Homo sapiens: one gene and its partners. The protein of the gene in region 3 purifies or fractionates together with the protein of the main gene of each other region. This does not show direct contact. Each region holds a gene or a part of one and is shown on either strand. Other genes may lie near its edges.

Region 1 (3,648 bases), on a different chromosome or scaffold from region 3:
CATTTGTTGAAAACATTTTGTATTCTAAGAGCTTTACACTTCTTATCTCCAAGCCTAAATACATGATCCCAAGAGAGGCGTGTCCTCATTTTGGAAGTGGGGAGAAAGACTCAGAAAGAAAAGTAAGTTAGGTAAGGGCATGAGGTGCATACGTGATTGTGATAGGAGCAAAACAGATCTTAATTCCAAATATTGTACTCTCCCGTAGACCACGAAGAGTACTTATGTCTGGCTGTGTCACCCAGGCCAGAGTGTAGTGGTGCCATCATAGCTCACTGCAGCCTCAAACTCCTGGGCTCAAGTGATCCTCCTGCCTCAACCTTCTGAGTAGCTGGGAAGACAGGAATGCACCATCATGACCAGCTAATTATTATTATTATTATTATTATTATTTTTGTAGAGACAGGATCTCACTATGCTGCCGAGACTGGCCTTGAACTCCTGGCCTCCTGTAGTGATCCTCCTGCCTTGGCCTCCCAAAGAGCTGGGACTACAGACATGAGCCATTGTGTCAGGCCTCCACCATCTCCACCATGTTTTTCAGGGACCTTTCTTGGTGAAGCTGCTTTATCTAGTTAATGCTCAAAAGTGAGCAAAACCCGATTTGCCCAAAATTACACAGATATTCTTTGGGTGGCTTTGTTAGGGGAACGGAAAATGCCTTTTTATAGTGATAGGAGTCCAGGTGGCAAGAACGATATTATGTGATGGGCTGCTTTTTCTTCTCTCAGTAGAGTGTATATTATTTAATTATAAGATACAATTGAAAATCTCTTTCTCTTTTCTATATTCCCGACTCCCCGGGCCTTGAATGAAGAAAGTATTTCTCAGGCTGTTTTTGTTTGTTTGTTTGTTTGTTTTTTCTACTTGCTTGGATATCTTCTGTCTCAGGCTGTTTTTTTTTTTTTTTTTTTTTTCTTTCTCTTCTTCTGCCTCTTTATGTATCTTCTGTTGTCCCAAGACATGTCTGGAAACTTAAATTGATTTTCACTCAATCTGAAATAAGCTCCATAACTCTGAATGGCGGACTTACCATGACTAAGTCCCCACTGCCACAGAACACTGTGCCACACACCAAGAGTGACTCATTGTCTTAGTCACAGGTTGTGGCTTCTGAAGGTCCTGGTGCCTGGTGGAGCTGAGTGTACTGGGAAGTCCAGGTGCATCCTTAGGGTAGGCTGCATGTGAAAGCTGCGTCCTTTTTGCCTGTGGTGAGGTGAATATCAATACAGTATTTATAGAAAGTCCACATAAATTGAGTAAGTACAAACCTTTCCAATCCTAGTGAGAATAACTAGCATTAATGACTCTTTGTTATGTGGCAGGGCCTCAGTGATCCTGGGCAATGACTTATCCCTATTTTACACATGAGCAAGGGGCGCCTGAGTTGCACCACCTTCCCTGAGTTCACAGAGCTCCGTGGTGGGGCCGGGCCCTGTGGCTGCAGCAGGGATGTTCAGGGCTGCGCGTACCTGCGTCTTCACTGGTGTCTTTCCCGCGCCCAGCACCATGCCTGGCGCTTCGCAGGAATGCAAGTGTTTGCTGCCTGCCTCCTGCCTGGAATCTCCACTGAGGAGCAGGAAACCAGGGGTTCTAGCTGTCTTCTTCGTCCATGAAGTCCTTTAGAGGAATTCAACCCTCTCTAATTAAAAGTATCCAATATCCTCAGGTCAATATGTGTAAACTGTTAAGACTTCAAGATTAGAACCTTAAAACCGAAGTCAGAAGTGTGAGGTTTCCATTGGCTGGACGTGCATTAGGTCAATGACACACATATTTATTGGACACCAGGCTTGAGCCCCACATGGGCACCTTTGGTGTCTGAAGCAATGCTGGCTTCGGAGCCCAGTAGGGTGGAAGGGGAAACTGAGAACAGCGCCATTTTGCCTCCCACGGCTCTGGGCCCGTTACCTTCCTGTGTACATACATTATTTGATGGGATCTTTTCAGTGTAAAGTGCAGTAATTAATTTTGCAAAAATTACTGGGTCTGGGAGGCAGTGTGTTGGAATGATGGTGTCACCATGTGGCACAGTGGGAGATTTGTGTAATGGCATCATTTTCTGTGAATGCAGACCGTTTTGTGTGCCATACTCGAATGACCCTTCGAAGCTAGACATTTTGTCATCTTTCGAAAGAAGCATGTTTTCCCCCTTGGTTACAGAAAGCTAAAAGCTTTTGATACAGGACTCCAACCTTTTATCAGGGAGAATTAGGCTCTTTAAATAATTAGGGCTCTACCAATCTGATGGGCCATCAGAAGCAATTAAAATTAGAAAGGTGAAGATACGGTAACGTAGTCAGGACAAACATCAGGATACCAGATTGCACGTTCACAATGGCATTTCGGCTAAGAAAGTGCGGGTGAATATAGAACAGAGGGCCGTATGTCAGTAATTGGGTTCCGTTTTGTGTTTCTTTTCCACAAGCCCTTTCTGGTGTTGTGTTTTTGTTTATTAGAGAGTAGCTGCCCAAAGGCTACAGTTTCCCTCCCCACTCCTCGGTTCTCTCCGTCTTCACCCCCAACTCCCAGTCCTGTGTTTGGAATTACAGTCATTGTGCTTGTCAGGATGTAAGAGGCAGCCAGACACATGGCAGACCAGAGCACTGAGAGGCAGAGACATTTATAGGTCCTAGCCCTGGTCCTGCTGTCTGGGTCAGCAGGGTGCTGAGTGCTGAGTGCTGAGATAGGGTCTTGATGTTTTCCTCTGCAGAATGGAGGCATCACTCAGTCTCTGTCTCCTCTCCCTGTCTCTGTCTTCCCTCCCCTCTTCCCTAACACATATCCACAGTGAAAGTGTTCAGGAGGAAAAGAGAATAGGCTGGACTGTGCTGGGACCCCCAACCCCAGGGCCCGTGTGCTATTTTCCCAGCCTCCGTGTGCCCAGAGATGCCTAGGGGAGCCTGCGGAGGTGTAGATCCTGACTGTGTGGGTCTGAGTGAGGCTCCGACTCTCACGGGGAGGGCACCGGTGCTGCTGGACCCCCTGGGGCCAGTGGAGCGGTTTGCAAATCGGGCAGATCAGCTTCTCCACTTCTCCAGGTTTCCCCAATGTGAGATGCTCCCAGGAGTCCCATGGGATTGTTTTCTGACTTTGACCAGGATTTTGACAGAGAAGATTCATTAATATAGGACCCCTTGTCTAAACGTACATATGTAAATGATCTGATCCGAAGTTTCCTGAATGGAAAATGATTGAAAGGGTGGCATGCAGTAGCCTCGGGGAGTCAGTCCTTCATATCTTTTCAGCTGTGTCTTACTACGATTAAGATTTTATTTCTGTGTGTGTGTGTGTTTTTTTTGTTTGTTTGTTTGTTTGTTTTTGAGACGGGATCTTGCCCTCTTGCCCAGCCTGGAGTGCAGTGGCTTGATGTCGGCTCACTGCAACCTCCGCCTCCTGAGTTCAAGCGATTTTCCTGTCCCAGCCTCCCAAGTAGCTGGGATTACAGGCATGCGCCACCATGCTCACCTGATCTTTTTTGTATCGTTAGTAGAGATGGGTTTCACCGTGTTGGTCAGGCTGGTCTCGAACTCCTGACCTCAAGTGATCCACCTGCCTTGGCCTCCCAAAGTGCTGGTATTACAGGCTGGAGCCACTGCACCCAGCCTTATTTCTGTGTTTCTGTAATCATTGTGCATGTTAACAGAC
Region 2 (3,648 bases), on a different chromosome or scaffold from region 3:
CTAGTTGGCCCCACTATGTGTCTCTTCTCTCTTCCCTATGGCATCCCTCAGCCTAATTTATGATATATGAATTGCCTCCCCTTTAAACTTCCTTATGGGATGGCTATGACTTCTTTAAGGTAGAGGAGATAATTTATATTTTTGAAATTAATGAAAGGGAACATTAAATATCCTTCCAAGACCCACCTGGAGATTTAATTCACAGCAGGAATAAAACAAAGGCAGTGATAAAGTCAATAGAGGAGTTACTAATACAGAAGTTTAGTGTTTAGTTTAATATTTGGTCAAGGGATTTTTGAAAGTAATATTTGTACATAATCTGAAGAAAACTGAGAGTGGACTGAGTTTGGTTTTATGATACAAGACCTTCGAATTGGTAACCTTGGTATTTTTACCACATGTGTCAGAAGATGATCCTAACATGTGCCCTTCCCATAGATTTTCCATGACCCTGGTCTCTGGCTTCCTTCTTCTTAGAGCCCCTGTAGCCATTGGAGTTGCAGCCATGTCCACAGCTGAGATGCTCACGTCAGGCCTGAAGGGAAGGGGCTTCTCTGTGCTCCACACTTACCAGGACCACTTGTGGTGGGTACAGAGTTTCTTCTGTTTTACAGAGAACCGGGGCAGCTGGGGAGAGGATGGGGCCTGTGATTCAGGAGTGAGAGTTTTGGTCCTAGCCATGTCTTTAAGCAAGTTGCTAAGCCCAGACTTTTATTTCCTTACAAATATAAAGAAAATATTTTTTTCCCCTGTTTGGACAAGTAATGAGAGAGAACTTTATTTTCTAAGTGAATTATAGAATCTTAGACCCAAAGGAAGACCTTAGGGATCATCTGCTCTGCCTCTCAGTACAGTGATACTCGTTTTTTTATAGCCCTGGTCAATCTGGCCCTAGCTGCGATGCACATTTTAGACATCATGTGACCCCATGATGAGTGCTTCTGAATCCTAATCACTGCAGGGTAGACCTTTAGACTCCAGGATTATAACCTGATTACTTTTATGTTATTCAGATTTCACATTCCAGACTCCTCCTCCTCATGAAAGTAACGCATTCTGACTGTAAAGGTTGCATTCTTGAGACGCGTACCTGTTCATTTTCTGGTTATTTTCTTGTCATTTTAGCAAAACAGTAAGCAGTGATTTTCTCAAAGCACACATTTAGCCAAGTATTGTGGCCTGTTGGTATAGATTCATTCTTATATTTTCCAGCCCAGTCTTGGAATTATTAATTTTTTTTTTTTTTTTTTTTGAGATGGAGTCTCGCTCTGTCGCCCAGGTTGGAGTGCAGTGGCGTGATCTCAGCTCACTGCAAGCTCCACCTCCCGGTTCACTCCATTCTCCTGCCTCAGCCTCCTGAGTAGCTGGGACCACAGGTACCTCCCACCACGCCCGGCTAATTTTTTGTATTTTTAGTAGAGACGGGGTTTCACCATGTTAGCCAGGATGGTCTCGATCCATTGACCTTGTGATCCACCCACCTCGGCCTCCCAAAGTGCTGGGATTACAGGTGTGAGCCACTGCGCCCAGCCTTTTTTTTTGAGATGGAGTTTTGCTCTTGTTGCCCAGGCTGGAGTGCAGTGGCGCAATCTCAGCTCACTGCAACCTCTGCCTCTCGGTTCAAGTGATTCTCCTACCTCAGCCTCCCGAGTAGCTGGGATTACAGGCTTGTGCCCAAAACATCCGGCTAATTTTTTTGTTTTTAGTAGAGACAGGGTTTCACCGTGTTGGCCAGGCTAGTCTCGAACTCCTAACCTCACGTGATCTGCCCATCTAGGCCTCCCAAAGTGCTGAGATTACAGGCGTGAGCCACCGCTCCCCGCCGGACTTACTGATTTTACAAGTACTTGCCAAGTCCTCCTTTGCTGGTACAAGCTCATTTTTGCCTGTTTTTAGATATTTGAGGGCTGATGACTGATGTTCTCCTAGCACCTTGTTGTTTAACTATCAGTCTGGGCAACAGCAATCAAGGTCAGGTTGTCTAAGTTGTTTTAGCAGCAGCTGCTTTGGTTCTCTCGCTGCACCTTGAAAAAAATATTTATGGTATTTACCTGATCAGAATAGCCTAAACATACCCTTTGGCTTTACTGTGAACAACACTGAGAAGCCTTGCCGTAACTATTAGTTAAAACTTAGTTTGATTTGCATAATGTTGGCTAAGATAAAGTTTTTTACTGCTTTGTGTGCTTTGCTATGTGGCATCGCCTGTTTTCCTGTCTTCCTAAGGCTTAGTGGCATAAAACCATGGCAATCTCTGCTTTCCACGTTAGACTGCATTTGATGTAACACAGAAGCCACTGATTTTGCAGTCCTTGAGCAGTCCAGGTGTTTGTGTTTTATTACATATGCTGAGCCGTGGGTTTGCATTTCACCAAACAGATATTACAGATGCATTCGCGATCTTAATGTTCATATTTAATTCAAATTGGTTTTGTTATTAACTCAGATGAAGGGAACATTTTTGGGAGTTTATCTTAAACTCCTTTTTCTTTAATCTTTCTCAGTCTTGGGATGTCTATTAATAGTATTATTCTTTTGGGATAGGGAGGAGACAAGATTTATTCTCCCCATTTCAGAGATGAAGAAACTGAGGCATGGAACTTTTAGGGGCCCAGAATTGAAAGTACGCTTGAGATGAGGGCACAGGCTCTCTGCCCCCTCCTGGCCACTCCTGCCTGTTGGCTCTCTGCTGTCTCTGACCTCACTGCTGACTCCTCTGTGGCCAGGGCTGGAGAGTATTGGAGCTGCTGCTTGATGTTTCTGACATGAGATTTTTCCAGGCGGTCTGGAAACAAGTCCTCTCCACCTTCCATTGCTCCACTGGCCCTGGATTCAGCAGATCTCAGTGAAGAGAAGGGGTCTGTCCAGATGGACTCCACCCTGCAGGGAGACATGAGGCACATGACCCTGGAGGGGGAAGAGGAGAATGGGGAGGTTCACCAGGCACGTGAAGACAAGTCTCTCTCAGAAGCCCCAGAAGACACCAGCACCAGGGGCCTGAACCAAGACTCCACAGATAGCAAAACGCTTCAAGGTATAACTCTAGGAGGAGAAGAGCCCATCTCCCCACCTCTCAATTTAGGAGCCTGACGAACTCCACTCCACTGCTGACTAGAATGGCCCTTAAGCTTCCGGGGGAGGAGGGGAAGGTCCTTATTTTCTGTGAGGGTGGCGCAGCAGCCCTTTCACATCTTGTTTTTGAATCCTTTCCACATAAGTCACGTCTTCCTGGGAGCTAATCTGCCCTGGCATTTGCCTGTCTTCAGCTACAAAGCCCTCCAAGGTTTCTTCTGGCTCAACTTCTCTGGGTGAACACTCCTAGCTTGGTGGGACTTTGTGGCTTGACTCCTTCTCTGGGGTCAACCCTCTTTAAAGGCTCAGTGCTCAAGAGAGGCTGGGAGCTTTGGTACCTGGGAATGGGTTCCTTTCAGAGCCAAGTGGGTGAGGTAGGGATGAAGCTGGGGGTCGTTTTCTTGTACCAGGTGTTCTGTATCCCTCAGGAAGGATGTGGCTCTTGTCTTTTCCCTGCAGAACAAATGGATGAGCTGTTACAGCAATGCTTCTTACATGCCTTGAAGTGCCGAGTCAAAAAGGCTGACCTCCCTTTACTCACCAGCACTTTCCTTGGCAGCCACATGTTCTCCTGCT
Region 3 (3,648 bases):
TGAGTTTGACCTGACACCCTGCGAGCAGCTTTTGAACCAGCTGAAGCTAATGGGAAGGTGCTATTGCCACCTTGCCTCCGCCTCCCGACTCCTTTTTCCCCCAGAAGGTAATGTCTTAGCACCGGGGCTTCTCTCTGCAAAATGGGTGCAGCCCTCTCAGTGTTCGTGGCTCCTCCCAGAGAATGAAGGAGGCCAGAGCGGGTCAGCACTCTCTCTGCCTTGGAGCAGAGCTTCTGAAATGGACTGCACAGCAGAATAGCCCAAGAAGTTTGTCAGAATCCAGACTTCCAGAGCCCTGCCTAAAACCAAGTCAGAAACCCCGAGTGACACCTGGGAGTCTGCGTTAACTGGCTCCCTGAATGAAGCACCTGCAGCCCGCCCTGCACCAGGTGTCTTTGAGGACATGAGCTGAGGAAACCCCGACCACTTGCAAAGGGGGAAAAGTCCGATGGCAGCTGGACCTAGAAAGAGTCTCATATGGCCCAGTGCCTGTCCTGGTATTTTCAACAGAGGCTGTGGCCACAGTCAATCTGCATGGTCAGATTCATTGTTAGGACTAAATGCTTTAAGCCTCCTATAAACTTTTTTTTTTTTTTTTTGATGCCCAGCCTTTGTGTAAGTCTACTTGAAAGGGTTTCAGGGTTCCATGGATACTTCTTTGCTATAAAGAGGATGACACATGTAAAATCACCTTTATGGTTAAATTAATTGGCTTTTATATTAGCTCCTCAAAGCAAAGCAGGAGAGACAGAAATTTCTGCAGTTGCTTCTTGGTCCTGTCCAAAGCAGACATCAGCCTCTGAACCATCAGCAGTCTTCCTAGTGGCAGTGACTCTCTTCCTCTTCTCTTCTGCAGCCCCGACACGTCTCTGCTACTGGACTGTGGTGAGGGCACATTTGGGCAGCTGTGCCGTCATTACGGAGACCAGGTGGACAGGGTCCTGGGCACCCTGGCTGCTGTGTTTGTGTCCCACCTGCACGCAGATCACCACACGGTGAGTGTTGGGCTGGACCACAAAGCTGGAGCCTGGAGGAGGCACTGCCACGTTGAGTTGGCCCTTTGGCTGCGTCTTTTCCTCCGCTTCCAAACTTGCCCAGAGCTTTTGTTACTCATCTCTGGCTAGGAAATGGTTTTTTGCAAAACTCAACATAGTCCTTCTGCGCCACAAGAATGTCTTCTCTTCCTGTTCAGTTCCTTTCCTGCAGCAGGACAGGTTTGAGTTTACCCAGCCTTCCTTGAGTCTTGAATCTCACACGGCCTGCTCAGCGGAAGCTTTGACCGGATGCAGGAGGTGTGGCTATGAGACCCTCACCTTGGTCTCCTGGGGTGCCGGGCCCTGGGCCGTTGCCCTCTTCCCAGCACGGGTCGTGTCGCTTTCTGCCTGTGACATTTCAGGGCCATGGCGCAGGGGGCTCGGCCTGTGCCACCCCCACTGCGGCTGTGTTAGAGGCTGGTGGGTGACGTCGGGCTGGCAACTCCTGCAAGAGAGAGGGCTGCAGACCCTAACCCGGAGGGGATGGCCCTGGGGCCTGGCTGACGCATGTCTCCTGTTTCCTTGCCAGGGCTTGCCAAGTATCTTGCTGCAGAGAGAACGCGCCTTGGTAAGTGTGGCACTTGATGGGCGTTCTGAGTTTCAGCGGTTTACACATCATCCGCCATGCCTCTTGGCACTCCAGTTTTTATTGAGATGTTCTGTCGTCGAGTCGGCACTTGCATTTTTTGTTCCAGGCATCTTTGGGAAAGCCGCTTCACCCTTTGCTGGTGGTTGCCCCCAACCAGCTCAAAGCCTGGCTCCAGCAGTACCACAACCAGTGCCAGGAGGTCCTGCACCACATCAGGTGAGCATCCAGGGCAGCCTGGCCCGCTGGGCTGTTGCTTGCTGCCGTCTCCTTCAGAAGCTCAAGGTGGACACTGGGGTAGTTACCAATATCCCCCAGCAGCCTTGCCCTTGACATGGTCCCAGATGGCAGAAGCAGGGGAGAAGTGCATTGGCTGAAGGACAGAAACCATTAGATAGTTCCCATGTAATGCTTATTTTCTTAGAAGCATTTCTTCCCAGTCCTCATTTGAGTTCTGAGCTGCTTTCTAAACTTCGAGCAGCTTTTCTTGATGAGACAGTTCCAGAGCCAAGCACCCAAATAGTGGCTAGCACAGAGAATGTCCATAGCAGGTGTGTGGCTAGCTGGCAGGTGGCACCATCCTCACCCCAAGGGGAAGGAGTCCCCTCTGCTGGAGCCATCCGTGGCCCGTGCTGCCTGAGCCGGAGGCAGCATTCACCTGCTGGGTTTCTCCCAGTGGCCTAGAGGCTTTGGTTTGGCTCTTTATATTTGACTGCTGTTTCCTCATCATAGTGACTATGATTTAACTCATGTTTTCTCCTAAGAATGATTTTGGGGTTCTCCAGCCAAAGACTTAAACTTTGGTTCCAGATGTCCAAGAAACGTTTATTATCATTTTAAATGTTTTGTCTTTTTACAGTATGATTCCTGCCAAATGCCTTCAGGAAGGGGCTGAGATCTCCAGTCCTGCAGTGGAAAGATTGATCAGTTCGCTGTTGCGAACATGTGATTTGGAAGAGGTAAGGGGCACAGCCGCAGGCATCATGGGGGCGAGGTGGGGAGCAGAGCTGCAGAGCCCTCCAGCCCCACCCTTTCAGTTTCAGACCTGTCTGGTGCGGCACTGCAAGCATGCGTTTGGCTGTGCGCTGGTGCACACCTCTGGCTGGAAAGTGGTCTATTCCGGGGACACCATGCCCTGCGAGGCTCTGGTCCGGATGGGTGAGTAGAGGAAGAAGCAAGCCACCCTGAGGTTGCTCTGGGGTTTGTGTAGCTGGAGGTGAATGCAGGTGGGCTTGCAGGGAAACGTCAGCAGAGGCAGGAGACTCAGGTCCCCACCCTCAGAGTCTCTGGTTGTCATCCTAGTAGGCAGACCCAGGGCCAGGGGAGCTGAGTGTTGAGACCAGGAAACAGCACGTGACTGAGGCCTGTGTGCCGCTCTCGCAGAGAACTCTGCCCTGATCCTTGTGCTGCTTCTCCAGGGAAAGATGCCACCCTCCTGATACATGAAGCCACCCTGGAAGATGGTTTGGAAGAGGAAGCAGTGGAAAAGACACACAGGTAGCAAAGGCCGGTCAGTCCTTGTCGCCCACATCCTCTCCCTCCCCCACTACGTGACACTGAGCAGCCGTCGTTTGTCTCCACTGATGTGGGGCTGCCCTGCTTCCTATCAAGGGCTATGGGGGCTTCCTTGACCTGTGGCAGTGCTCACAGGCTCTTGGCCTTTATTTTTGCAGAATTTTCTAAGCAAGATTCTAGAGTGAGGCACAGTTTTTTGAAAGCATCTAGAAATCGGCTGAATAAACTATAAGCCATGTCAGGGAATTGCCAGGGGAAGGCGGGGGCTGGGGGACTGAATTTTTGGCTGCTAATTTCAACGAAAGAGTGCATTACCCCAGGTGGGCCCTGTGGTTTCTCTTGGGTGCCCTCATGGACAGATTTGGCAGCCAGCACAGAGGGTGGGCTTCATCCAGGGGTGTGTGCGAAGGCTCTGGCCCTCAGGGGAGATTGTGCTGGCTACGGAGGTGCCCGTTAAGAAAACCCACCAGCTTCCCCGGGTGCCCTGGCAGTTGATGGCCAGGGTCTGTGCCA

The links.
Region 1: the proteins of ELAC2 (region 3) and PFKP fractionate together in Homo sapiens (co-fractionation; one large-scale study listed by BioGRID). This does not show direct contact.
Region 2: the proteins of ELAC2 (region 3) and EIF2D fractionate together in Homo sapiens (co-fractionation; one large-scale study listed by BioGRID). This does not show direct contact.

Annotation. Positions count from the first base shown.
Region 1 is NC_000010.11:3,070,533-3,074,180, forward strand, and holds part of PFKP (ATP-dependent 6-phosphofructokinase, platelet type), read left to right. Parts: intron 1-3,648. UniProt on the Homo sapiens protein: Catalyzes the phosphorylation of D-fructose 6-phosphate to fructose 1,6-bisphosphate by ATP, the first committing step of glycolysis.
Region 2 is NC_000001.11:206,602,337-206,605,984, reverse strand, and holds part of EIF2D (eukaryotic translation initiation factor 2D), read left to right. Parts: intron 1-477; coding exon 478-585; intron 586-2,780; coding exon 2,781-3,034; intron 3,035-3,531; coding exon 3,532-3,648. UniProt on the Homo sapiens protein: Translation initiation factor that is able to deliver tRNA to the P-site of the eukaryotic ribosome in a GTP-independent manner.
Region 3 is NC_000017.11:12,993,894-12,997,541, reverse strand, and holds part of ELAC2 (zinc phosphodiesterase ELAC protein 2), read left to right. Parts: intron 1-856; coding exon 857-995; intron 996-1,563; coding exon 1,564-1,602; intron 1,603-1,729; coding exon 1,730-1,839; intron 1,840-2,479; coding exon 2,480-2,579; intron 2,580-2,657; coding exon 2,658-2,778; intron 2,779-3,038; coding exon 3,039-3,117; intron 3,118-3,648. UniProt on the Homo sapiens protein: Zinc phosphodiesterase, which displays mitochondrial tRNA 3'-processing endonuclease activity. Involved in tRNA maturation, by removing a 3'-trailer from precursor tRNA.